Linked DNA regions of Homo sapiens. The protein of the gene in region 1 interacts with the protein of each later gene in a pairwise test. Each region holds a gene or a part of one and is shown in the gene's direction. Other genes may lie near its edges. The genes, in order: XAGE2, GMCL1 and GMCL2.

Region 1 (8,200 bases):
AACATATCAAAGCACCATCACACGAGTGCAGAAGCACACACATGAACACACCCTGCAGCTGCAGAAAGACATGGTGGGAAGTAAAGCCCCACAACTCATCAGCCTTCCTTCTCACCAACTCATGAGTCCACAAGTGAGTTTGCTGAGAGTCAAATGCTCACAGTAAAACTGACAAATTTAAACATCACTCAGAGCTATTTCAAGCATTATGTAGAAAGCTACAGACAACAGTGAACTTGCTCTTAGCAAGTCTTAATCTATCATCCTCATCAATGGCTAAAGAAATTGTCCCTAGACATTTTGTCCAATAACTTCTAAAGTAATGACCTTCAAACTTTTTAAATTACAATTCATGGGAAATACATAGTTTGTATATAATTCAGTAGGGAAATAAATATATGTATGTGTATGTGTGTGTGCAGTCTGTTTGAATATTCTATATGCAGTGAATGCTATTTACTAATTTATTTTATCTCATTTCTTCAAAATGCTGTTTGTGGAGGACAACGTTAATCTTATGAACCACTATGGATGACAAACCAGTATGGAAAAGATTAAAGCCTTTTCACAAGATATCCTCAATGGTTAATAAGTGTTATTATAGAAGTATATGAAAAGACACATGAGAACCCAATGTTGTCTTCCTCCTTCGGAATTCAGTCTTTTCAGAAAAAAAATGGTCGTTTTTGTTTGTTTTTTTTTTTTTTGTTTTGAGACAGAGTCTCCCTCTGTCACCCCAGTCTTGGCTCACTGCAACCTCTGCCTCCCAGGTTCAAGCGATTCTCCCACCTTAGCCTGCCGAGTAGCTGGGATTACAGGACTGCACTACCTCACCTGGCCAACTTTTGTATTTTTAGTAGAGATGGGGTTTCACAATGTTGGCCAGGCTGATCTCGAATTCCTGACCTCAAGTGATCCACCCTTCTCGGCCTCCCAAATTGCTGGGAATACAGGTGTGTGCAACTGCACTTGGCCAAAAACGTGGTCTTTGATATGGGCCACAAAGGCTACCACGAAATATGTAATTACAGAGGAAATGTGTGTTCCATCAGCAGATAACCATGTCTGTTTTGCACAGGTGAAGTGTTACTTGGACAGACATAAAATCACATGCAAAAGGGACAGAAAGTACATGTGACCTCTTGTCCTCTTGGTATCATGAGGAGGCTTTGTTTGGGCTGCAGCATAGCTGAATGTCATGAATTGCATCCATTCACGCGGACCTCCCTGTGAATGCACAGGGACCTCCATTTCCCTTTTGTGCTCCCGCTTTATGAGGCAAATAGGGGAGTTGCAATTAACATGGTAGGTAGTAAATAATTTGACCTCAACCAACAAGCAATCTGAAGAGCTCAGGTGACAGTGTTTACTATGGTACTCTGAAAACTGCCAGCTGCTCAGAATCTGTAGACTTTGTCCCACCCAGCCACAGTCCTGTGGAAATCTCAGTTTGTTCATATTCCAGTGCTTGGAGGATGGGAAGGTCTTGTCATGTGGTGAAATTGAGCCCACCCACAGGTAGATGGGCTGTGTTGGTCCCAGCTCCAACTTCTCCTTTAGCAGCCCTCAGAGTTGCTAGCGTCATGTATCAGGCAAGTCTTCTTGCCTCTAAAGAGTTTCTCATACTTTCTGCTGCTTCCTGTGAGTGTCACAAGGGCTACTTCACAACTTGCTCCCATCCCAATCCAATTATGATCCTTTGAACTCATCCAGCTGGACCAGGGTCACCTGCCATGGGAATAACAGGAGGAAGCTCAAATTTGGGAGGAAGTTAAAACCTGCCCTTTGAAGCTGGAGTGTGTCCACTCAGGAATCATTAAAATCCAGGTCCTTGTGAAGCACATCCATCCAGCCATCTGATGGCATGACTTTGACCATTTGCTAATTCGATGCTCACAGAAAATCTAAACCCAGATGTCACTATCTCTCATTCTTTGAACATTTCTGAGTGCACTATACTAAAAACCGGAGTTAATAAGGGAAAAATGCAAGTAAAATTTAGTAATGACAATGTCCTTGCCAAGAAAAAACAAAAAAGATAACAGATAAACTAAATAATAGTTTATGAGTGCCCTCACTCCTTAAATAAACTTTGAGAACTACAATGACTACTCAAGCCACTTTTTGGAGACAGAGATTGAGGAATCTCTTTTTTCCTACTCAGGGTATTTCCTTAAAAGGAGTGCAGCTGTGGCCAGGCACGGTGGCTCACACCTGTAATCCCAGCACTTTGGGAGGCCGAGGTGGGCGGATCACTTGAGGTCAGGAGTTCGAGACCAGCCTGGCCCACATGGTGAAACTCCGTCTCTACTAAAAATACAAAAATTAGCTGGGTGTATTGGCACGTGCCTATAATCCCAGCTACTTGCGAGCCTGAAGCAGGAGAATCACTTGAATCTGGGGGGCAGATATTGCAGTTAGCCAAAGATCATGCCACTGCACTCCAGTCTGGATAATAGAGTGAGACTCCGTCTCAAAAGAAAAAAAAAAAGAAGCTCAACTAGATAGAATATATAGATGTCAGTTCAACAATATATCCTAATTTATTTATAAAAGGCTACATTCTGATCAGGGCTCCCTTCCTATCCTTCCCTTCCATATACTATTCCCCACATTAACTGCTAGGTAATATAAAAGTAATAAGAACAGGAGTCATGGACATAGTTTACTGTCTACATTAACAAGAGTTTATATTCCACTGTCTTCATTATCATAATTTTACTAATACAGGAATCTCTTACCAAGGAAAATAAAAGTTTCAAAAAAACTTTATTGTTCTTTCCAGCAATTGCCTGAAAGATCCATCAACTCCTCAATAAAAAGTGTCAAATGACATTTTTCAATCCCAAAACTCTTTGAACCCATTGCCTAAAAAGTCTTGTTGCATCCACCAATCCTAAATCATTGTCATTCCTACCCAATTCTAACCAAACCATCCCCCACTTTAAAATACCCACTTTATACCGGACATGAAAAGCACAACAAATATACCCAAAGCCCTTCCACATCTGACATACTAGTGCCTCTGTGGAGGTAGTGCTCTACCTTATAGCTTTATTTAAATAATGTCAGCGCTGTCTTATGAACAGGTTATTTGGCTGCTATTTGGGGAGTAGAGTATATGATGAGCACAGTCACCACTGCTGTACATCATGTCACAATAAACTAAGTTTAAATCCTAGGACCAATGTTGTATTAGTCCGTTCTCATGCTGCTATAAGGACATACCTGAGAGTGGGTAATTTATAAAGGAAAGAGGTTTAATTGACTCATAGTTCTGCAGGGCTGGGGAGGCCTCTGGAAACTTAACAATCATGGAAGAAGTGGAAGCAAACACATCCTTCTTCACATGGCAGCAGGAGAGAGAAGAGTGAGCAAAAGGGGAAAAGCCCCTTATAAAACCATTAGATCTTGTGAAAACTTACTCACTATCAGGGGAACAGCATGAAGGTAACCACCCCATGATTACATTACCTCCCACAGGGTCCTTTCCATGACATGTGGGGATTATGGGAACTACAATTCAAGGAGAGATTTGGGTGGGGACAGAGTCAAACCACATCATATGTATGGATATTTCTGAACCATACACTGTCTGAATGACCTACAGGTATATTCAGGGAAATCAGTTACCAGTCCAGAGATTAAAATGTGCAATAATACCACCTAAAAAAGGAAGAGGTGTGAATTTATTTAGTCTACAGAAGTGGTTCTATTCATTGGTAGCATGGCAGAAAACCTCAGACCAGAGAAGGAAGTGATTAATCAAAGTATGAATAAAAATTGGCCAAGGTGGGAGGATCACTCGATCCCAGAAATTGAGACCAGCCTGGACAATGTAGTGAGATTCTGTCTCTAAGTAAATAAATAAATAAAATAGCTGGGCATGGTGGCACACACCTGTAGTCCCAACTACTTCGGAGGCTGCGTCTTGAGTATTGCTTATGCCCAGGAGATCCAGGCTGCAGTGAGGTAAAGTCATGCCATTGCCCTCCATCCAGGGCGACAAAGTAACACCCTGTCTGGAAAAAAAAAGCATGTATAAATATAAACATTAAAATAATTTATTTCTGTCACAAAAGGTCTTTCTGAGACACATCAACCACTAAGGGTGACATGGGACTCTCTGTTCCCAAAGTTTCTGGATGCATGAGAATGGTAGGACAAGAGAGAGAGAAAAAAAAATATCTCTTAAGTCCCTTTCTTTCTACTACAAACATACTGGGGATTCTGGTTTTGGGACAGTGGGAAAACCCTGGCTGGCCTTGCATGTGCCTGACTCAGTGTGAACGCCCCTTACTGCCCAAGTCCCTTGTTGCCCATGCGCCTTACTGTCTGCCTTCTGTCCCAGCAGAGCTGTGCAAAGAGACATCGTGACTTCCTTCTGTCTTGCCGACTAGGAGTCAGCCAGTAGGTCTGCAGTTCAGTAGTCCTAGAAGTTTGAGTGTGAGTGAGTGTGAGGAGGAGCCTGCGGGCACGATCCATGGCCTCCTAGGTGGAAGGGCTTTGAGGTCCCCGTCCTTCTAACACGCAGCGATGCAGCCATGGCCTTGCTGTGGTGGGGGTGCCGGACAAGGGAGGGAGAAGGACCATAGATGGGAGGAGGGTCAGGTAAACAAGCAGTGAGTTTTGAAGGGGGAAACTATTTGTGGTATTTGAGTCCGCGAGGCATATGAAACTGCTTACAGACGATGCATTCCAGAGTCCTCAGTGGGAACCAGGGAGGGGAGGGAGGACTGCATGACGCGGGATGGGGTGGGGCGAGGCGGGGCACTGCAGCACACAACGCAGGCACCGACTTCAGTGTGCATGTTCCTTGGACACCTGCCTCAGTGTGCATGTTCACTGGGCATCTTCCCTTCGACCCCTTTGCCCACGTGGTGACCGCTGGGGAGCTGTGAGAGTGTGAGGGGCACGTTCCAGCCGTCTGGACTCTTTCTCTCCTACTGAGACGCAGCCTATAGGTCCGCAGGCCAGTCCTCCCAGGAACTGAAATGTGAGTGAATGTGAGGAGGAGTGAGCGGGCTTCCAGAGGGTCAGGCGGCGTGGTCTGTGGCCTCAGAGAGTAAAAAGCTTCCAGGTCATAAGGAAGGTGGGCCGCGGAGTGAAGGGGAGCCAGATGAAGATAGGGTGAATGCTCGGGGTGCTGTTGGAGGTATCTGAGTCCCGAAAGTGCCTGGAACTCCCAATGGGACAGATTCCAGACTTCTTGGTAGGGACCCAGGAATGGGCTGTGTAAGCGGTAAGAAAGGGGCCTGGGAAGTGGGAATGCTATGAGCTGGTGACCGCGACCCCGAGGTCTGTAGAGCTCCGGGTAGAAATGTCCAGCGAGGAGCGTCCAGTGATGTGTCACAACTTCTCAACTCCACCCTGGAGGTTCGAATGGGCGGGACTGTGCTTTCCAACAAAACCTTGATTTTAGGGAGGGAAATCGTCCAAACAAATGGGTGTGTGACGAAAGCCGTGGTCACTGCAGTTTTAATTCTCTAGCTGTATAAACTTAAATGTCTCCACTATGGAGAATCCAACTGTGAAACCAAATCTCATCAGAAATATCCTGTATCTTTTGCCAGGAGCATTAAGACATTGCTCTGCTAGATTGCCCAACTTAAGTGGCTATGCAAGCATTCGATTCAGAAGATGTACACACTTCTAGTTGCCCTGGGACTTACTTTCAAATTATTTCCAAACTTTTTTAAAAACTGAAATTTAACATTTGGCCATGAAAGTGGTCAAATACAGCTATCCTCTCAAACACACTTTCCCAATCACAGTATTCTGTTTGCAGAGTGAAATATGAGTTGGCGAGGAAGATCAACATATAGGCCTAGGCCAAGAAGAAGTTTACAGCCTCCTGAGCTGATTGGGGCTATGCTTGTGAGTGCTTTAATATTTTGATGTTTTTTATTAGCAGAAATTTCTTTTGTGATAGTGTTGTTGAACTAGTATAGATACACTGATAAAGGTCTTCCATGTTGATAAAAATGATCATGCATCTCATGAAGGAAAGACTAATCCAAGAGTATTACAATCTGATTTTGCCTTCATGGATAATCTTGTGTTCCCCATCATGACTTCCTCCTCATGCTTACTGATAACAGATTGCACACATCCAACCCAACATAGATTAAAATGGTTTCCAAAGCCTTTGAGGGTAACTGTCTTAGAGTAACCTCTCTTTGGGAAGAGTAACTTTGTGAAGAATAAGTATGTGGAACAGTGTTGGAGAAGTGTCTTTAGACTTACTTGTGATTAGAAATACCTGTGTATTCTGTATATTTGTATTATTGACATGTATTACTAACAAAACTTTTTATCTGCACACATACTGCCTCCCCTTTGTCCCAGGAACCCACTGATGAAGAGCCTAAAGAAGAGAAACCACCCACTAAAAGTCGGAATCCTACACCTGATCAGAAGAGAGAAGATGATCAGGGTGCAGCTGAGATTCAAGGTGCTGGGAAAGGAAAGAAATAATGCCTATAGGGGGAAGGAGGCCTATGTGTCCATCATGCCTTATGCCATGACCAGTAATAGGAGGAAAGAAAACATTAGGAAAGGATCTCAAGCACTTGCTCAAAGTAGGCTGGAAAAGTGAAGAGTATAGTTTGCAGCTTCATGCAGTCCCTGGATATAATAAATCTTCTCTTTTTTTCAAGATTTATTTTGTATGCTTGAAAATACATCCCTTGCTAAATCAGATGAAACTGTTTAATTTGATGTATCAAAATGTACATTATTTCACTTGATTAATTTGATCTTCTTAGAATGTTGCTGTATGATTGGCTCAGCCATGGTGTCCACAGTGTTATAAGCACCCTTTTATAGCATATAGAGTGCCAAGTCACCCTACCTTATAACACCCTGAATAAAGCCCATTTGCATAGGGATATTAGCCCTATTTTATAAAAAGGAAATGGTTGCTCAGAGATAGAGGCTTACCAAGAACGCTTGAGTCATGGAGGCAGAATTCATATTACGTTCCAAGGTCTGTGTTCTTCCTAACATCTACGTTATTAGAAAACGTGAATTATTTTGCTTAAAACGCTTAATACTCGAATGTGTCTGTACTGTAAGGTACTTGAGTATTGGCTCAGGAGAAAACAAATTCAGTGAAGCAGGATAGCAAATCCGGAAAAGGGCTCAATGAATGACAGCCACTGTTCCCTTTGATCAGTATTTTTTGACAGTATGTTTGGTAAAAGGTGGATAGTTCAGGACACTGGCATACAGGTAGGTATATTAGTATGCTTTTTAAGGAACTTTTAAAAGTTGCCTAAATACTTTTATAATTAGAAAACTCAAAGTATGATACAATTATCATGAAACAGAAATTGTGTCCTCAACAGATAGCATTTTCAAGCTAAAGTTGACGGAATTTGGACCATGGATTATTTTAGCAGTTCACGGTTAAGAGGTTTCCAGAATATGACTGTCAACAACACTCATTACTTTCTTTCACTCAATTTCCTGAATTCTCATGGGAAAACTGTGACTTTTTTTCCTCTTATTTTTGGTACTATATTCTCAATAGGATTTATTTATGAAAAGTTACATTTAGGGCCTTTGGACCTAAGCATAATTTTAATTAATTTTAACCAAATAATTTTCAAATTACCTCAGCAAGATATGGTTGTCACAATTGTAAGTTTTTGTCATAAGCCCAGGAATACATTGATCTAGTCTTTCAGAAAATTATCTTTGAGTTATTATTAAAATGCTATTCATGCAGCAAACTTCAGATATCTTACATAGTTGATACTCACTGTTTATAATGCACACTGGCAAAGTATAGGAAATGAAGGTGTAGTGTGATTTATCCTTAGATTGTCATTTTATATTAGATTTCAGGCCAGGTACATTGGCTCACACCTGTAATCCCAGCACTTTGGAAGGCCGAGGCTGGTGGGTCCCTTGAGCCTGAGAGTTAGGAACTAGCCTGGGAAACATGGGGAAACACCAGAAAATTTTCTCTGCCAAAAAAATACAAAAATTAGCCTTGGTGGTGGCATGTGCCTATAGTCTCAGCCTCTCACAAGGCTGAGACAGGGGGATAACTTGAGCTCAGGAGGTCAGGGCTGCAGTCACCTGTGACTGCACCCCTGTACTCCAGCCTGGATGACAGAGTGAAACCCTGTATTAAAAAACAAATAAAATAGGAATTCATAATACAGGAAAACAAAAGTGTGACAGCTTTGCA
Region 2 (7,923 bases), on another chromosome or scaffold:
ACGAGGTCTCACTATGTTGCCCAGGCTGTTCTCAGACTCCTGGGCTCAAGTGGTCCTCCTACCTTGGCCTCCCAAATTGTTGAGATTATAGGCATGAGCCACCACGTCCAGCCCTCACTACCTTTCTTTACCACTACTCTTATTCTCGGTCGTGTTGATTTCAATATCTCTGTTCCCTGACCTTCCTTCCCCCATGCTCTTGTGCTCCACCCTACCTCAGGCATCCATTCCTGTGAGCATACCCTCAATTTTTGCATTATTAATTACTACACCACCTTCAAAATCTCCATTTCAGGCATCCCGTTTTCAGACCCCACCTCGTCTTTCTAGCTCATTCTCTCTAGCACCTGGACTCCAACAATTTTTTAACTCCATTCTGGATATACAATACATTGTTTTTACAACCTTTCCCTATCACCTTTCTGACCACATTTCTACTTCTTATTTTGCTTGACTTATATTTTATGTTCCATCGTAAAATTGGTCCCTTGCTTATACTCTTTTAACTTTTCTTTTTCCTCATTGACATGTTAAACTCACCTGGCTAAACCCCAACTCTTGTCAAGGGTTGCACTCCATGCCTGCATCCAGACAGATGAATGTGATTAAAGACAAACACCGTACCCCATTGGGTTCCACTTGAATGTGGTAACCATGAACTTGAAGTAGGTTAGTGCTGCATCATGATCTGTCTGCATTTTCCTAGTGAATTGATCCTCCCATTAGCTGAGGTAACTCATACCTTCTCTCCTTAAAAGGGCAATGCTCCCACCCTTATTCTTATCTGATGGCCTTGCTGCCTACTGCAATGAAAAGAGAATCTGTACATCATCTTACCAGTAGTTCTGCCAGTCTACCTGCACCTGTAGCTATGCGCTATGCATTTCATCTTATTAGAAAAATGAACTGCCTACTTCTATCTTAGTCCATTCCCTCTCTTTGTACTGGACTCTATCCATGCTCACCTATTCAAAAGCTTTGCTCCAGCCAGGCACAGTGGTATGCACCTGCAATTCCAGCTACTTGGGAGGCTTAGGTGGAAAAATTGCTTGAACCCAGGAGTTAGAGTTCAGCCTGGGCAATATAACGAGACCCTGTCTCTTTAAAAAAAAAAAAGCTTTGCCCTTACAGTTATCACCTCTACTAGGGCAGAAACTGTATGTTATTTACTGCTATGATTCCATTGCTTAGAGGAGTGCCTGGCATATAATATGTGCTCAATAAATATCAGTTAAATACTGAATTGCAATTCAGGGTGTCAGCCAAACACTTGAAGCCCTAACTACTTCTCTGTATCACACTACCTTATCTGATACTCTCACATTAACTATTAGCTGATAGAATAAACAAACTCGTGAACCCCATGATGATATTTAAATAACCCAGTTGTGTGTTACTTGAGTTAGAGTATTTTATTTTTATTTTTATTTTTATTTTTTTTTATTCTTTTTTGTATTTTTAGTAGAGATGGGGTTTCGCCATGTTGGCCAGGCTGTTTTTGAACCTCAGACCTCAGGTGATCCACCCGCCTCGGCCTCCCAAAGTGCTGGGATTACAGGCGTGAGCCACCACACCCAGCCCTTAAGAGTATTTTTAAAGCAAGGTGGATTTTAATGGGCTCTTAATTACCTTAGTGCTCTAGAAACTCTTAGTGCTCTAAGCTATATACCCACTTAGAGTTGCAGTGAAAAGCCTTATTATTGCTGGGTGCAGTGGCTCACGCCTGTAATCCCAGCGCTTTGGGAGGCCGAGGCGTGTGGATCACAAGGTCAGCAGTTCAAGACCAGCCTGGCCAACATAGTGAAACCCCGTCTCTACTCAAAATACAAAAAAAAAAGGCCGGGCACAGTGGCTTACACTTTGTAGTCCCAGCACTTTGGGAGGCCGAGGCGGGCGGATCACCTGAGGTCGGGAGTTCGAGACCAGCCTGACCAACATGGAAAAACCCCGTCTCTACTAAAAATACAAAATTAGCCAGGCTTGGCGCATGCCTGTAATCCCAGCTACTCAGGAGGCTGAGGCAGGAGAATCGCTTGAACCCGGGAGGTGGAGGTTGTGGTGAGCCAAGATCATGCCATTGCACTCCAGCCTGGGCAACTAGAGCAAACCTCTGTCTCAAAAAAAAAAAAAAAAAAATTAGCCGGGCGTGGTGGCAGGGACCTGTAGTCCCAGCTACTTGGGAGGCTGAGGCAGGAGAATCGCTTGAACCCGGGAGGTGGAGGTTGCAGTGAGCCAAGATCATGCCACTGCACTCCAGCCTGAGTGACAGAATGAGACTCTGTCTCAAAAAAAAAAAAAAAAAAAAAAAGCCTTATTATTTATGGTAGAATTGCAGTATGGAGAGATAAGGAAACTGATCATGAAGAGGAAAGTAGCTTAGAGAATTATGATCATTAAGGGCAGCTTTTCTAGCTTAGATAAATAGTTTTGGGTGGTAAGCCTTAAGAAAAAGTCACTGACAAAAAGTCGACCACCCATGAGGGAAATACTTGGAATGAGTTAGAGACAAAAAGACATTTTGAATTTTTTATTTTCTACTTGCTAATATGATAAACTGAAATAAGTCTTCTCTCTTGTATTTTTTAGTACTGCTGGCGTTGGACAGGTTTTAACTTCGGCTTCGACCTACTTGTAACTTACACCAATCGATACATCATTTTCAAACGCAATACACTGAATCAGCCATGTAGCGGATCTGTCAGTTTACAGCCTCGAAGGAGCATAGCATTTAGGTAGGATGAGATTTCCCCACCCCACTCCTCCTCACTCCAGAGAAAATATAAGAAATAAAACCTTGATAATTTACACCAACATTAGTAGAACTTTGGTAAGCTACAGTATATGTGGAAGTGGTAGGAAATGACGAGGCTCCATTCCTGTGAAATCTATTGTTAGTAATCAGAATCATAGGATCTAGTATGTCAGGGAGAATGAATAGGCTGGAATATATACCAGTAGGGAATATCAGCCTTGAAGTCGTTGCCTTGTTGCTATTCCTAGCAAATAAAAGATCCAGACTGTTGAAATATGTAGCAAGGTATGTTTCCAGGAAAACACATATTATCCTTAACTTTTTAAAGGATTTAATATGTTAAATTTTGCCCAGTAGTTGCTGGCAATCTTTTTCTGAGAGGATACCAGAAGCTGACAAATTGGACAGTAGCTTAATGAACATGATTTAAAAGTCATATATTTATACTTACCTTACACCAAATACAAAAATTAACTTAAAATGGATCAAAGATCTAAGCATAAGAACTGCAACTATGAAACTCTTGGAAGAAAACATAGGGGAAAAGCTTCATAACAATTGATTTGGCAGTGATTTCTTCCATAAGACACCCAAGCACAGGCAACAAAAGAAGCAGTAGATAAAATTGGACTTCATCAAAATCACAAACTTGTGTATCAGAGGACAGTGTCAAGACAGTGAAAAGGCAACCCATGGAATGAGAGCAGATATTTGTAACGCTACATTTGATAAGACATTAATACCCAGAATATATAGAAAACTCCTACAACTCTATAATTTAAAAAGAAAACTCAACTCAGCTCAAAAATGGGCCAAAGACTTCCATAAACATTTCTCCAAAGAAGATATATAAATGGCTAATAAACACATGAAAAGATGTTCAACATTACTAATTAGGGACATACAAACCAAAATCACAATGAGCTATCACTTCACACCTATTAGGATAGCTATTAGTAAAAACAGAATAGAAAAAAAACAACAAAAGTAACAGGTGTTGGCAAGGATGTGGAGTATTTAGAACCCTTGTGTACTGCTCGTGGCCATGTAAAATGGCACAGCCACTATGGAGCATGGTATGACACTTCCTCAAAAAAATTAAACAGAATTACCATATGATCCAGCAGTTTCTCTTCTATAGACCAGAAGAATTGAAAATAGGGACTTAAACAGATATTTTTGTATACTTATGTTCATAACAGCATTATTCACAATAGCCAAAAGGTGGAAGCAACCCACATGTTCACTGACAGATGCTAGAGAAACAAAATGTGGTATATACATAAAATAGAACATTATTTAGCCTTGAAAAGGAAGCAAATTCTCATACATGCTAAACATGGATGAACCTGGAAGACATGCCAAGTGAAATAAGCCACTCACAAAGCACAAATATTGTAAGATTCCACTCATACGAAGTACCTAGAGTAGACAAATTCATAGGTACAGAGGATACACTGGTGGTTGCCAGGGCCTGAGGGAAGGGAAAGTGGGGAGTTAGTGTTTAATGGGTAAGGAGCTTCAGCGAGGGAAAATTAAAATGTTCTAGAGATGGGTGCAGAACAATGTGGAAATATATTTAATGCCACAGAACTATATACTTTAAAATGGTTAAAATGATAAATGTTACGTATATTTTACCACAATAAAAACATTTATAAATGATTTCTCTTGGCCAGATATGTATAATAGCACAGGCTTGTCACTGAATGCAGTCAGATTACAGTTTGAAAAGACTTCCTAAAAGTCTTTTATCAAATAAAAAACAGAGGAAAAAGTAAATATGAAAGTAAGGAAGAGCTTGTTTAATCTGTGGTTTAAAAATCTTGTGTTTATTTTTTATTTTTTTTTTAATCCTAGATTACGTTTGGCTTCTTTTGATAGTAGTGGAAAACTAATATGTAGTAGAACAACTGGCTATCAAATACTTACACTTGAAAAGGATCAGGTATGTTCGATTATCTTCTGGTATGTCATCATAATATTTGTCTTTTGAATCCTCTTTTGAAAATTCTTAAGTAGAATTAACATTAAAGTGATGGCATTTTGACCTAAAAGTTGGTTTAAAAGTCTTTTGAAGGTAAAGATGAAAGTACCACATTCACTTATGCATAATTGACCCCATCCCAATGGAAGCATAATTAGGAGAAAAAAAGAAAACACTGTTTGAGGGGCAGGGAAACACTGATTATAAGGAAATAATTGTTTATCCTGAATATCAGCAGCACTAAAATTCATTCCTAAAATTTTAGGAATCTTAAGTGCTTTATCCATTGTGTACATAGTGCATTTATTTATACATTCACAGCAGGCATCTTAAAGACAATCCTGTATGTCTCCATAGCTCCGAATATCATAAGAGCATTATTCTCTAGCCCATTAGGTTCGTAAGATGGCAAACTCTGCAATGTTCCCCAGATTATCTCCAAAGCCATTTATTTATTCATACATCACACACATGGAGAAGTTTCAAAGTGTCATGATGAGAAAGTAGACCATTTTTAAAAGTAAAACTGAAAGCTGTTAAAATATTGAGGAACTTTATTTCTATTAAAAGTAATCATCATTCCAAAGGGCATAATGTTTTATTAAAGGATTCAAAGCCTGTTATAGTTTACATAAATTATGAGAAGTTAGTAGTTTTCCTCAGACTGAAGAGACTATCATAGAACATCCTTAGCATTGCAAGTAACCCCGGAAGTGATCATTGTAACCTCACATGCCCTATATGAGAACTTCTTTTAACAGCATTCTTACAGAGGGGGTCATCCACCCATTGTTGAAACTCTAACTGACCCCCATCTTACATGAAAGGTAATATGTAGGAATGTCCATTTCAAGGCAGGTATATAATGAGAAAGTCCAAATCTGCCTCCATCAGAACTCTCTGTTGGTCCTTCTTGTAACCTCTGCAGCTGAACAGACAATGACTATCTTTATCTTCTACCTGAAACTTCATGAAAAATACTGTCATGGCTCAAACCCAGCCAGAGACCTAAAAAAGCACCAGGCCAAGATAATAGTTGTATTCCCATGTTCCTTCAGCAAACATTTGTGTCCCCACCATGTGCTTGGTTCTCAGCTAGAAGTAGAAGAAATAAAGACAGGCTTGTGTTAATATAGCCTAGTGTAAGTAGCATGATAGAATTAGCTCAGAGTGTGCAACCTTGAGGGAGAAGACTCTGACCTGTAACTGAGCAGCTGCCGTGGTTGGGGGTGGTTATTGGAGGAGGAGGAGAAAGAAAGACAGCTCAGGGAAAACATCCTCTCCTGGAAAAGTGTTAAAGTGAATGCATACCTGAACCAAGCCTCAAATGGTGAGTAAGATTTCCGGAAGCAAGGGAATACATGGGTCATATTCAAGGAACTGAAAGATGGTTGGAAGAGTTCAGTATAACTAGAGCCAGGGCATGAGGGCTGTGGATGGAGTTTGGGAGATTTACTTTGGGAGTTGTCTCCGTGTTTTATATAGGTTATAGATGTTGTCGAAAAAATAGAAAATATGAGTCAGCTGAAACAACAATCATACATGTACCACTCAGATACATTGCTGAGTTTTTCCTTCACCTGTATCATTTTTGCAAAATTGGATCACAGTAGGTTAGCTATTTTGTAACCTGCTTTTTTTTTTAATGGTGAAAAACATATATATTTAGAATTTGCCAGCTGGATTCAACTTAGATGATCCCAATTTTTTGGCAGCCTCTAAAAGCAGCATGCTCAGGAGCCAGCTGAACATGGGCTTTCTTCTCTCCATCAGCCCTGATCACGGTGTTGATCTTGGCCACATTGGTGTCATAGAGCTCCTCCACAGCCTGTTTGATCTTATGCTTTTTGACCTCGACATCCACAATGAACACAAGTGCATTGTTGTCCTCTGTCTTCTTCATGGCCAAGTCAGTGGCCTGGGAGAACTTGTTGGTCGCATAGTGGTCAGGCCTGGGGGAGAGGCAAAATGGGGTCACCTGGCCTGGGCCCAGTAGAAGAAAGGCTTGGTCCTCTTTCAGAGCCCAAGGCCAGGTGAGCCTAGGTGCATCAGACAGTGAGGTAGTAATTGTAACCTTTTTTTTTTTTTTTCACTTTGTTGTACATAGCTTTTTTTGGTCAATAAATATATATTCACAGCATCATTTTTATGAACGGCATAATATTAGTTGTTTTGGCTATACCGTAACTTAGATAATTCCTCTTTATTGGATAAAGTTGTTTCTCATTTTTTTTCATTACTATAGGAAATATACATATATCTTTGTCCATTTTTATGATATTTTTAAAGCATAAATTCCAAGAAGTAGAATTCTTGTTGCATGGTGCATACAATTTTCTAATGGCCAAATTGCCCTCCAAAGCTACTGTCCAATTTATACTTCCCCCTGGCAGCAGTACAGGAGAGTATACCCAATATTGTATCTTATTCTTTTTCATCTCTATCCCAGCGTAGTAAATGTGAAAACAAATATTTGTTTTAATTTTCATTTCTTTTTGTTTGTTTGTTTTGAGACAGAGTCTTGCTCTGTCGCCCAGGCTGGAGTGCACTAATTTTTAGTAGAGACAGGATTTCACCATGTTAGCCAGGCTGGTCTTGAACTTCTGGCCTCAAGTAATCCACCTGCCTTGGCCTCCCAAAGTGCTGGGATTACAGGTGTGAGCCACCGCGCCTGGCCCTTAATTTTCAATTTTCATTTCTTTGGTTACTGTATTGTTGGGTTTTTTTATGCTTATTGAACGTATCATCTCATGTAAACTGACAGCTTATATTGTTCCTGTTTAATTTTTTATTAAAATTTCATTTTTTTCTTGCTAATTTTTAACAGCTTTTATATATTAAAAATACATTTGTGATACTCTATAGTTTTTACTTTTTTTTTTTTTTCCGAGACAGGTTGTCACTCTGTCACTCAGGCTGGAGTGCAATGGTACAATCTTGGCTCACTGCAGCTTCCACCTCCTGGGCCCAACCTTTCCACGCACCTCAGCCTCACAAGTAGCTGAGACTACAGGCTCGCACCACCATGCCCAGCTAACTTTTTTGTATTTTTTTATAGAGACGAGGTTTTGCCACGTTGCCTGGGCTTGTCTGGAATTCCTAGGCTCAAGTGATCCACCTGCCTCCGCCTCCCAAAGTGCTGGGATTACAGGCATGAGCCACCAGGCCCAAACAGTTTTTACAT
Region 3 (8,384 bases), on another chromosome or scaffold:
TCCCTGTCACCCAGGTTTGGGATGCAGTGTTGCAATCATAGTTTGCTGTAACTTGAAACTGCTGGGTTCAAGCCATCCTCCCACGTTAACCTCCAAAAGTGCTGAGATTACAGGTGTGAGCCATCGTGACTGTCCCTGGCCACATTTCAAGTACTCAATAGCTGCATGTAGCCAGTGGCTACTATGATGAACAGGGCAGATCTAGACCAGGAGTTGGCAAACTATGGCCCATAGCCCAAATTTTGCTTACTGCTTGATTTTATATGATCCCTGAACAAAGAATGGTTTTTACATTTTTAAATCATTGAAAAAAAAATCAGGCTGAGTGCAGTGGCTCACACCTATAATCCCAGCACTTTGGGAGGCTGAGGCAGGCAGATCACTTGAGGTCAGGAGTTCAAGACCAGCCTGGCCTTGAACATGGTGAAACCCCATCTCTACTAAAAATACAAAAAAATTAGCCAGGTGTGGTGGCATGTGCCTGTAATCCCAGCTACTTGGGAGGCTGAGGCAGAGGATCGCTTGAACCCAGAAGGCAGAGGTCGCAGTGAGCTGAGATCACAGTCTGGATGACAGAGCAAGACTCTGTATCAAAAATAAATAAATAAATAAACAAATAAATAAATAAATAATGAAAATAATAATATTTCATGACACATAAAAATTGTATGAAACTCAACTTTCAGCATCCATAAATTAACTTTGACATTCTGTCAATAGCAATCCCCCCAAATTATGGAAGTTGGTTTCATTTCTTGGTATGTACTTACCGACTTCATACCCTCGATTTTGCCTGTTGGCCCAAAGCATAAAGTATTTATTCTAGCCAGGCGCAGTGGCTCATTCCTGTAATCCCAGCAGTTTGGGAGGCCAAGGCAGGTGGATCACTTGAGGTCAGGAGTTCGAGACCAACCTGGCCAACATGATGAAACCCCATCTCTACAAAAAATTCAAAAAATTAGCCAGGCATGGTGGCACATGCCTGTAATCTCAGCTACTTGGGAAGCTGAGGCACAAGAATTGTCTGACCCTGGGAGGTAGAAGCTGCAGTGAGCCGAGATAGCGTCATTACACTCCAGCCTGGGCAACGAGAGTGAAACTCTGTCTCAAAAATAAAATAAAATAAATTAAAAATAAATAAATAAAATAGAGATCATAAGACTGACAAAACAGACTTTTTTTTTTTAGACAGAGTTTCGCTCTTGTTGCCCAGGCTGGAGTGCAATGGCATGATCTTGGCTCACTGCAACCTCTGGCCCCCGGGTTCAAGTAATTCTTCTGCCTCAGCCTCCTGAGTAGCTGGGAATACAGGCGCCCACCACCACATCCAGCTAATTTTTTGTATTTTTAGTAGAGATGGGGTTTCACTATGTTGGCCAGGCTGCTCTCAAACTCTTGACCTCTTGACCTCAGGTGATCCACCCACCTCAGCCTCCCAAAGTGCTGGGATTACAGGTGTGAGACACCGTGCCTGGCTCAAAACAGAATTTTTGTAGCAATAAGATGCCAAATTTCTACCTGACTCTGGTACATCACGTAACAGATAGCAGACCCTGAAGGGCATCAAAATATTTTACCCCAAAATATATTTATTTGACAATATTTTGAAATGGCCCTGCAAAGCTGTCTCCCATGGGGGAAATTTGCATCTGTAGAGAATTTCCATTAATGTAGCCAGGACTTTGTCAGATTTAGGAGAGATTCAATGAGAGTCTGAGACTTTTGAAGGTCTGAAAAGAGACATTCACTATCTATTCTGAGGGCTGCTACCTGGAGGCTTCATCTACGTAACAAGAACCTCAGCTTCCACAACCCCTTTCTTAACCCAAGCATTTCTTCCCACTGACTTCAACGCTTTTTTTTTTTTTTTTGAGATGGAATCTCGCTCTGTCGCCCAGGCTGGAGTGCAATGCAACCTCCACCTCCCTGGGTTCAAGCGATTCTCCTGCTTCAGCCTCCAGAGTAGCTGAGACTACAGATGTGTGCTACCACACCCAGTTAATTTTTGTACTATTAGTAGAGACAGGGTTTCACCATATTGGCCAGGCTGGTCTCGAACTCCTGACCTCGTGATCTGCCCTCCTTGGCCTCCAAACTGCTGGGATTACAGGCGTGAGCCACCATGCCTTCAACTCTTTATTTTATTTTATCTTACTATTTTTTTTGGAGATGGAGTTTCACTCTTGTTGCCCAGGCTGGAGTGCAATGGTGCGACCTCGGCTAACTGCAACATCCACCTCCCAGGTTCAGGCAATTATCCTGCCTCAGGCTCCAGAGTAGCTGGGATTACAGATGCATGCCACCACTCCCAGTTAATTTTTCTATTTCTAGTAGAGATGGGGTTTCACCATATTGGCCAGGCTGGTATTGAACTCCTGACCTCAAGTGATCCATCTGCCTTGGCCTCCCAAAGTGCTGGGATTACAGGTGTGAGCTACTGCAACTGGCCTGTTTTATTTTATTTTTGAGACAGGGTCTCATTCTGTCCCCCGAGTTGGAATGCAGTGTCACAGTCATGGCTCACCATAGGCTCGACCTCCTGGGCTTAAGTAATCCTCCCACCTTAGCCTCCCAAGTAGCTGGGACTACAGGTGCACATCACGATGCCCAATTAATTTTTAAAATTTTTTTGTAGACACCGGGTCTCACTACGCTGCCCAGGCTTGTTGAAAACTCCTGGGATCAAGCCATCCTCCTCGGCCTCTCAAAGTGCTGGGATTACAGATGTCAGTCATTGTACCCAGCCACTTCAACTCTTTAGACAAAGCTTAACTTTTTCAACCAATTGCCAATCAGAAAACCTTTGAATCACCTATGACCTGTAACTCCCCTGGAGTTGTCCTGCCCTTATAGGCTGAAGCAATGTGTACTTTACATGTATTGATTGATGTATTTGCTTGTAACCTCTGTCTCCCTAAAATGTATAAAACCAAACTATAACCCAACCATCTGAGGCACACTTTCTCAGGACCTCTTGAGACTGTACCCCAGGTCATGGTCACTCATATCAGCTGAGAATAAACTTCTTTTTTTTTTTTTTTTTTTGAGATGGAGTCTCGCTCTGTCACCCAGGCTGGAGTGCAGTGGCGCAAGCTCTGCCTCCCGGGTTCACGCCAGAGAATAAACTTCTTTAAACATTTTACAGAGCTTTTTTTTTTTTTTTTTTTTTTTTTTGGTCAACATAGACCATTCACCTGGCCCCTTAACTCCAACAGAAACTCCAGATTTGCCTTTGGAATCAGGAGGCTGAGCTTCCTGACTTCCCAACTCTGGGATTTAGAACAAGTCACTTTCCCTATTGAAACCTCTGTTTTCTTCATCTGGGAATGGGGCAGGCACTCACATAGGTTTGAGGAAGCCACAGGGCTGGTCACTCTTCACTTGTGTCCAGCGTCCCATCCACCTCCCTGGCATGACCTTGCCTCCCCCTGCAGCACTGGCCCATCTAGGGCTCCCCACACCTACATATCTGGCCCTGATGCCCCTCGCCAATCTCTGCCCCCACTGTACCAAAGATGGAGCCCCGCATGGCGACTCCTACATTGCTCTGGGGGCACAGACCTCCATCTGCCTGGAACAGCCTCCCACCTTCCTCATCAAGTCCTGTTTTCTTACAGGAAGACACCCACATGCCCCAGCCATCCCATCCCCAAGGACTGGCCAAGCAGTTCCAGCACACCCCTCGGGTGGTCTCAGTGTGTGCCCTTCTCCAGTTCCTCCGGGTCTGGGCCTGGGTCAGCCCTTTACACACACGGGGTTCCCAACAAGTAGCTTCCAGATGGCCTGGTGAGGCTGCAGGGCAAATTTCCAGGACCATGCCCCACTTCTCCACTCCATCCCCCAAGGACAAAAGCCTCCTCAATTCCGACATCCTAATCCTGCTGCCCCTGTCTCCACAGATCCTCCCCACAGAGAATCCCTGCCTATCCTGCCCAGGCCCTCTGCTTGCTTCTGCCTTCCCAGACCGGCTGCAGTGATCATTTCACCCAGCCATGGTCACTTTCACCATATTGGCCAGGCTGGTCTTGAACTCCTGACCTCGTGATCTGCCCACCTCGGCCTCCCAAAGTGCTGGGATTACAGGTGTGAGCAGCCACCGTACCTGGCTTGACTTCAAGTCTTTATTCTATTTTATTTTATCTTATTATTTTTTTCTGGAGACGGAATTTCGCTCTTGTCGCCCAGGCTGGAATGTAATGATGCGATCTTGGCTCACTGCAACTTCTGCCTCCTGGGTTCAAGCAGTTCTCCATTTCAGCCTCCCGAAAAGCTGGGATTACAGGCGTGCACCACCACACCTGGCTAAATTTTATATTATTAGTAGAGATGGGGTTTCACCATGTTGGCCAGGCCAGTCTCAAACTCCTGACCTCATGTGATCCACCCACCTTGGCCTCCCAAAGTGCTGGGATTATAGGCATGAGCCACCGAGCCTGGCCTATTTTATTTTATTATTTTATTTTATTTTTGTGCCTGGTCGCAAATTTACATTGGACTGGTTAGGCTCAAGCGTCTGGTACACACATTTTCCTTTGTCAGGTCTTGCAAATAAAACTTTGCTCCTAGGGAAGTGGTCCTTCTAAAACGGACCTTGGTTTTGGCTGCCAGATGAGAATTGCTTCCAGCAATGAAGAATGCTGTCCAAGGAGTTCAAGACCACCCGGAGAAACACAGTGAAACCTTGTCTCTAAAAGAAATTGTTTTAGGCCGGAGGCAGTGGCTCACGCCTGTAGTCCCAGCACTTTGGGAGGCCAAGGTAAGAGGATCACCTGAAGTCAGGAGTTTGAGACCAGCCTGGCCAACATGGGGAAACCCCGCCTCTACTAAAAATACAAAAATTACCCAGGTGTGGTGGCGGGCGCCTGTAATCCCAGCTACTCAGGAGGCTGAGGCAGGAGAATCACTTGAACCCGCGAGGCAGAGGTTGCAGTGAGCCGAGATCGCGCCACTGCACTCCAGCCTGGGCGACAGAGCAAGACTCCGTCTCAAAAAAAAAAAAAAAAAAAAATTGTGGGGGAGGGGTGCGGAGGTTGGAGGCGGCAGTGTCCGCTGCAACGGTTGGGGCTGCGCGTGAGAAGGTGGCGGTGTAGGCACCTGTGCTCGGGGAAGGCTGGCGGCGGCGGCCGGGCCATGGCCAGAGACCCCCTCCTCTGGGCTCCCTGAAGTCCTGGGGAGCCGTGACCCATGGGATCGTCGAGCAGCCGGGTGCTGGGCCAGCCGAGGCGAGCCCTTGCCCAGCAGGAACAGGGTGCCAGGGCCAGGGGCTCGGCCCGGAGGCCGGACACTGGAGACGATGCGGCGAGCTACGGCTTCTGTTACTGCCCGGGCAGTCACAAGCGCAAGCGGAGCAGCGGGGCCTGCCGCTACTGTGACCCGGACTCGCACAGGGAGGAGCATGAGGAGGAGGGGGACAAGCAGCAGCCGCTCCTCAACACCCCTGCAAGGAAAAAATTAAGGAGTACATCCAAATATATTTATCAAACATTATTTTTGAATGGTGAAAACAGTGACATTAAGATTTGTGCTCTAGGAGAAGAATGGCGATTACACAAAATATATTTATGTCAATCTGGCTACTTTTCTAGTATGTTCAGTGGTTCTTGGAAAGAATCCAGCATGAATATTATTGAACTGGAGATTCCTGACCAGAACATTGATGTAGACGCACTGCAGGTTGCGTTTGGTTCACTGTATCGAGATGATGTCTTGATAAAACCCAGTCGAGTTGTTGCCATTTTGGCAGCAGCTTGTATGCTGCAGCTGGATGGTTTAATACAGCAGTGTGGTGAGACAATGAAGGAAACAATTAATGTGAAAACTGTATGCGGTTATTACACATCAGTAGAGATCTATGGATTAGATTCTGTAAAGAAAAAGTGCCTTGAATGGCTTCTAAACAATTTGATGACTCACCAGAATGTTAAACTTTTTAAAGAACTCGGTATAAATGTCATGAAACAGCTCATTGGTTCCTCTAACTTATTTGTGATGCAAGTGGAGATGGATGTATACACCACTCTAAAAAAGTGGATGTTCCTTCAACTTGTGCCTTCTTGGAATGGATCTTTAAAACAGCTTTTGACAGAAACAGATGTCTGGTTTTCTAAACAGAGAAAAGATTTTGAAGGTATGGCCTTTCTTGAAACTGAACCAGGAAAACCATTTGTGTCAGTATTCAGACATTTAAGGTTACAATATATTATCAGTGACCTAGCTTCTGCAAGAATTATTGAACAAGATGGTATAGTACCTTCAGAATGGCTGTCTTCTGTGTATAAACAGCAGTGGTTTGCTATGCTGCGGGCAGAACAAGACCGTGAGGTAGGGCCTCAAGAAATCAATAAAGAAGACCTAGAGGGAAATAGCATGAGGTGTGGTAGAAAGCTTGCCAAAGATGGTGAATACTACTGGTGTTGGACGGGTTTTAACTTCGGCTTTGACCTACTTGTAATTTACACCAATGGATACATCATTTTCAAACGCAATACACTGAATCAGCCACGCAGCGGGTCTGTCAGTTTACGGCCTCGAAGGAGCATAGCATTTAGATTACGCTTGGCTTCTTTTGATAGTAGTGGAAAACTAGTATGTAGTAGAACAACTGGCTATCAAATACTTATACTTAAAAAGGATCAGGAACAAGTGGTGATGAACTTGGACAGCAGGTTTCTGACCTTCCCTTTATATATCTGCTGTAACTTCTTGTATATATCACCAGAAAAAGGAATTGAAAATAATCGTCACCCAGAAAATCCAGAAAACTGAAGATCTCATCAGTTGGAAACAGTAGCACTTTGAAAACTTTCAGGCCAGCTTTAATTTAATGGCCCTACTGATATTCACATCTAAGTTGACTAACAATGACAAAGGCCTTATGAACTGTACGGACAATACAGAAGACTATTCTTATCCTCATTGCATTTCTATGCATATACAAAAAAAATCATTTTAAAGCCAAGAAAATATCTGTCAAACCATTTCTGTCAGTACGATGTCAACTCATGCTTTTAATTCAGCATCAGCAGAAAATGACTGTAGGTAAATCTCACATTTATCTGCAACAAAATATAGATTTAATTTTTAGCTTAAACTTTGTTTCTACCTTATGTTAGTGGACCTCAGTTATCCATCTGTAAATTTATTTTTATTTGGCTAAAATAATCTAAAAGAATAATTTGGATGGCCAATTAGAAATGCTCTTTTGAGCTGGGGCATTTAAAGCTTTCCTTTAATATTTTTACCTGCTCATTATGATTCCTCCTTTTAGTCTAATATCTTTCCAGTTCATACTTGTTTTTAATCATTAAATACTTTCTTCCTGGTTTGGAGACTAAGCTGAGAAACTTTTTTTAAACTTAAGCATTGTCATATGCTATTTTTTAAAATTTGGCTTTCCTAGGATTTTAAGAACAATGAAAGTTAGCTTCACACCTTCAAATGATCTTGAATGCGTGAAAAATCAGTTTGATTCCAGGGATATTTCTTGTCTTACATGGTCTTTTCTTTGACAGTCTGTACACCTTTATTATTAGTTTTTGAGTTATTTATGTACCAGATATTATACTTTTAAATATTTTAATATTCTCTGATCTTTACAATTATTTATGTTCAAATTTTAGTTGGGAGTTTTGTTTCCTACTTAAGCTCAGGACTTGATACCCTCTGAGATGAGTGGCTTTGAGTGACATGCTAACAGCAATTTCATAGTAAATGTAAATAAGGTCAGAGGATCTAACATAGAAGCTGATGACGCATTAATGTAAAAATGGAACTTATTTTTGTCAAAAATAAGATGTACACTTGTCATGATTTATATATGTTGACCTTTTGTGTTTACTGCTGTTTTGAATAGAGCCATGTTCATTTTCTTTCCAGTTAGAGTAAGTACTTCTGTGGTTAATGTATATTTTTATTCTGGCTTTTAAAATGGGAATAATTTGTATGTATCTGTGCAAATAATAAATGCGCATTTGGAAAAAGATTAAGTAAGCTCTTATATGAAATGGACCAAAAAACCCCCCTTAATTGAAACCAACATTTTTTTTCTTTCTAGTTAGATTTTTTTCCAACTCCTTTTAACTTTTGGAATTTACTAATAATTTTTTTTCTTTCTTAATGATATGTCCATAGGTTCATAAATTGCTTTTTCTTTTAAAATTCATCTACTTGGTTTAACTTAAAGGAACCTTTTAAATGCCTCACCCTTGACCCCCAGAGCTGGAATTTAAATGTTTCTAATACAGTGATTTGGCTGTTATCAAGAGGTTACATTTCAGCTGGGCGTCAGCCGGGCATGGTGGCTCACACATGTAAGCACAGCACTTTGGGAGGCCGAGGCAGGCGGATCATTTGAGGAGTTTAAGATCAGCTATGAGCAACATGGT

The links.
Region 2: the proteins of XAGE2 (region 1) and GMCL1 interact in binary tests that used the Homo sapiens proteins (3 or more experiments, as listed by UniProt).
Region 3: the proteins of XAGE2 (region 1) and GMCL2 interact in binary tests that used the Homo sapiens proteins (3 or more experiments, as listed by UniProt).

The regions. Positions count from the first base shown.
Region 1 is NC_000023.11:52,364,219-52,372,418, forward strand, and holds the start of XAGE2 (X antigen family member 2), read left to right. Parts: upstream 1-4,802; 5' UTR 4,803-4,996; intron 4,997-5,774; exon of another isoform or gene 5,775-5,788; 5' UTR 5,789-5,796; coding exon 5,797-5,877; intron 5,878-6,348; coding exon 6,349-6,454; intron 6,455-8,200.
Region 2 is NC_000002.12:69,867,133-69,875,055, forward strand, and holds part of GMCL1 (germ cell-less protein-like 1), read left to right. Parts: intron 1-566; exon of another isoform or gene 567-669; intron 670-2,586; coding exon 2,587-2,732; intron 2,733-4,612; coding exon 4,613-4,700; intron 4,701-7,923. UniProt on the Homo sapiens protein: Possible function in spermatogenesis. Enhances the degradation of MDM2 and increases the amount of p53 probably by modulating the nucleocytoplasmic transport.
Region 3 is NC_000005.10:178,184,100-178,192,483, reverse strand, and holds GMCL2 (germ cell-less protein-like 2), read left to right. Parts: upstream 1-5,112; 5' UTR 5,113-5,184; coding exon 5,185-6,765; 3' UTR 6,766-7,979; downstream 7,980-8,384. UniProt on the Homo sapiens protein: Possible function in spermatogenesis. Probable substrate-specific adapter of an E3 ubiquitin-protein ligase complex which mediates the ubiquitination and subsequent proteasomal degradation of target proteins.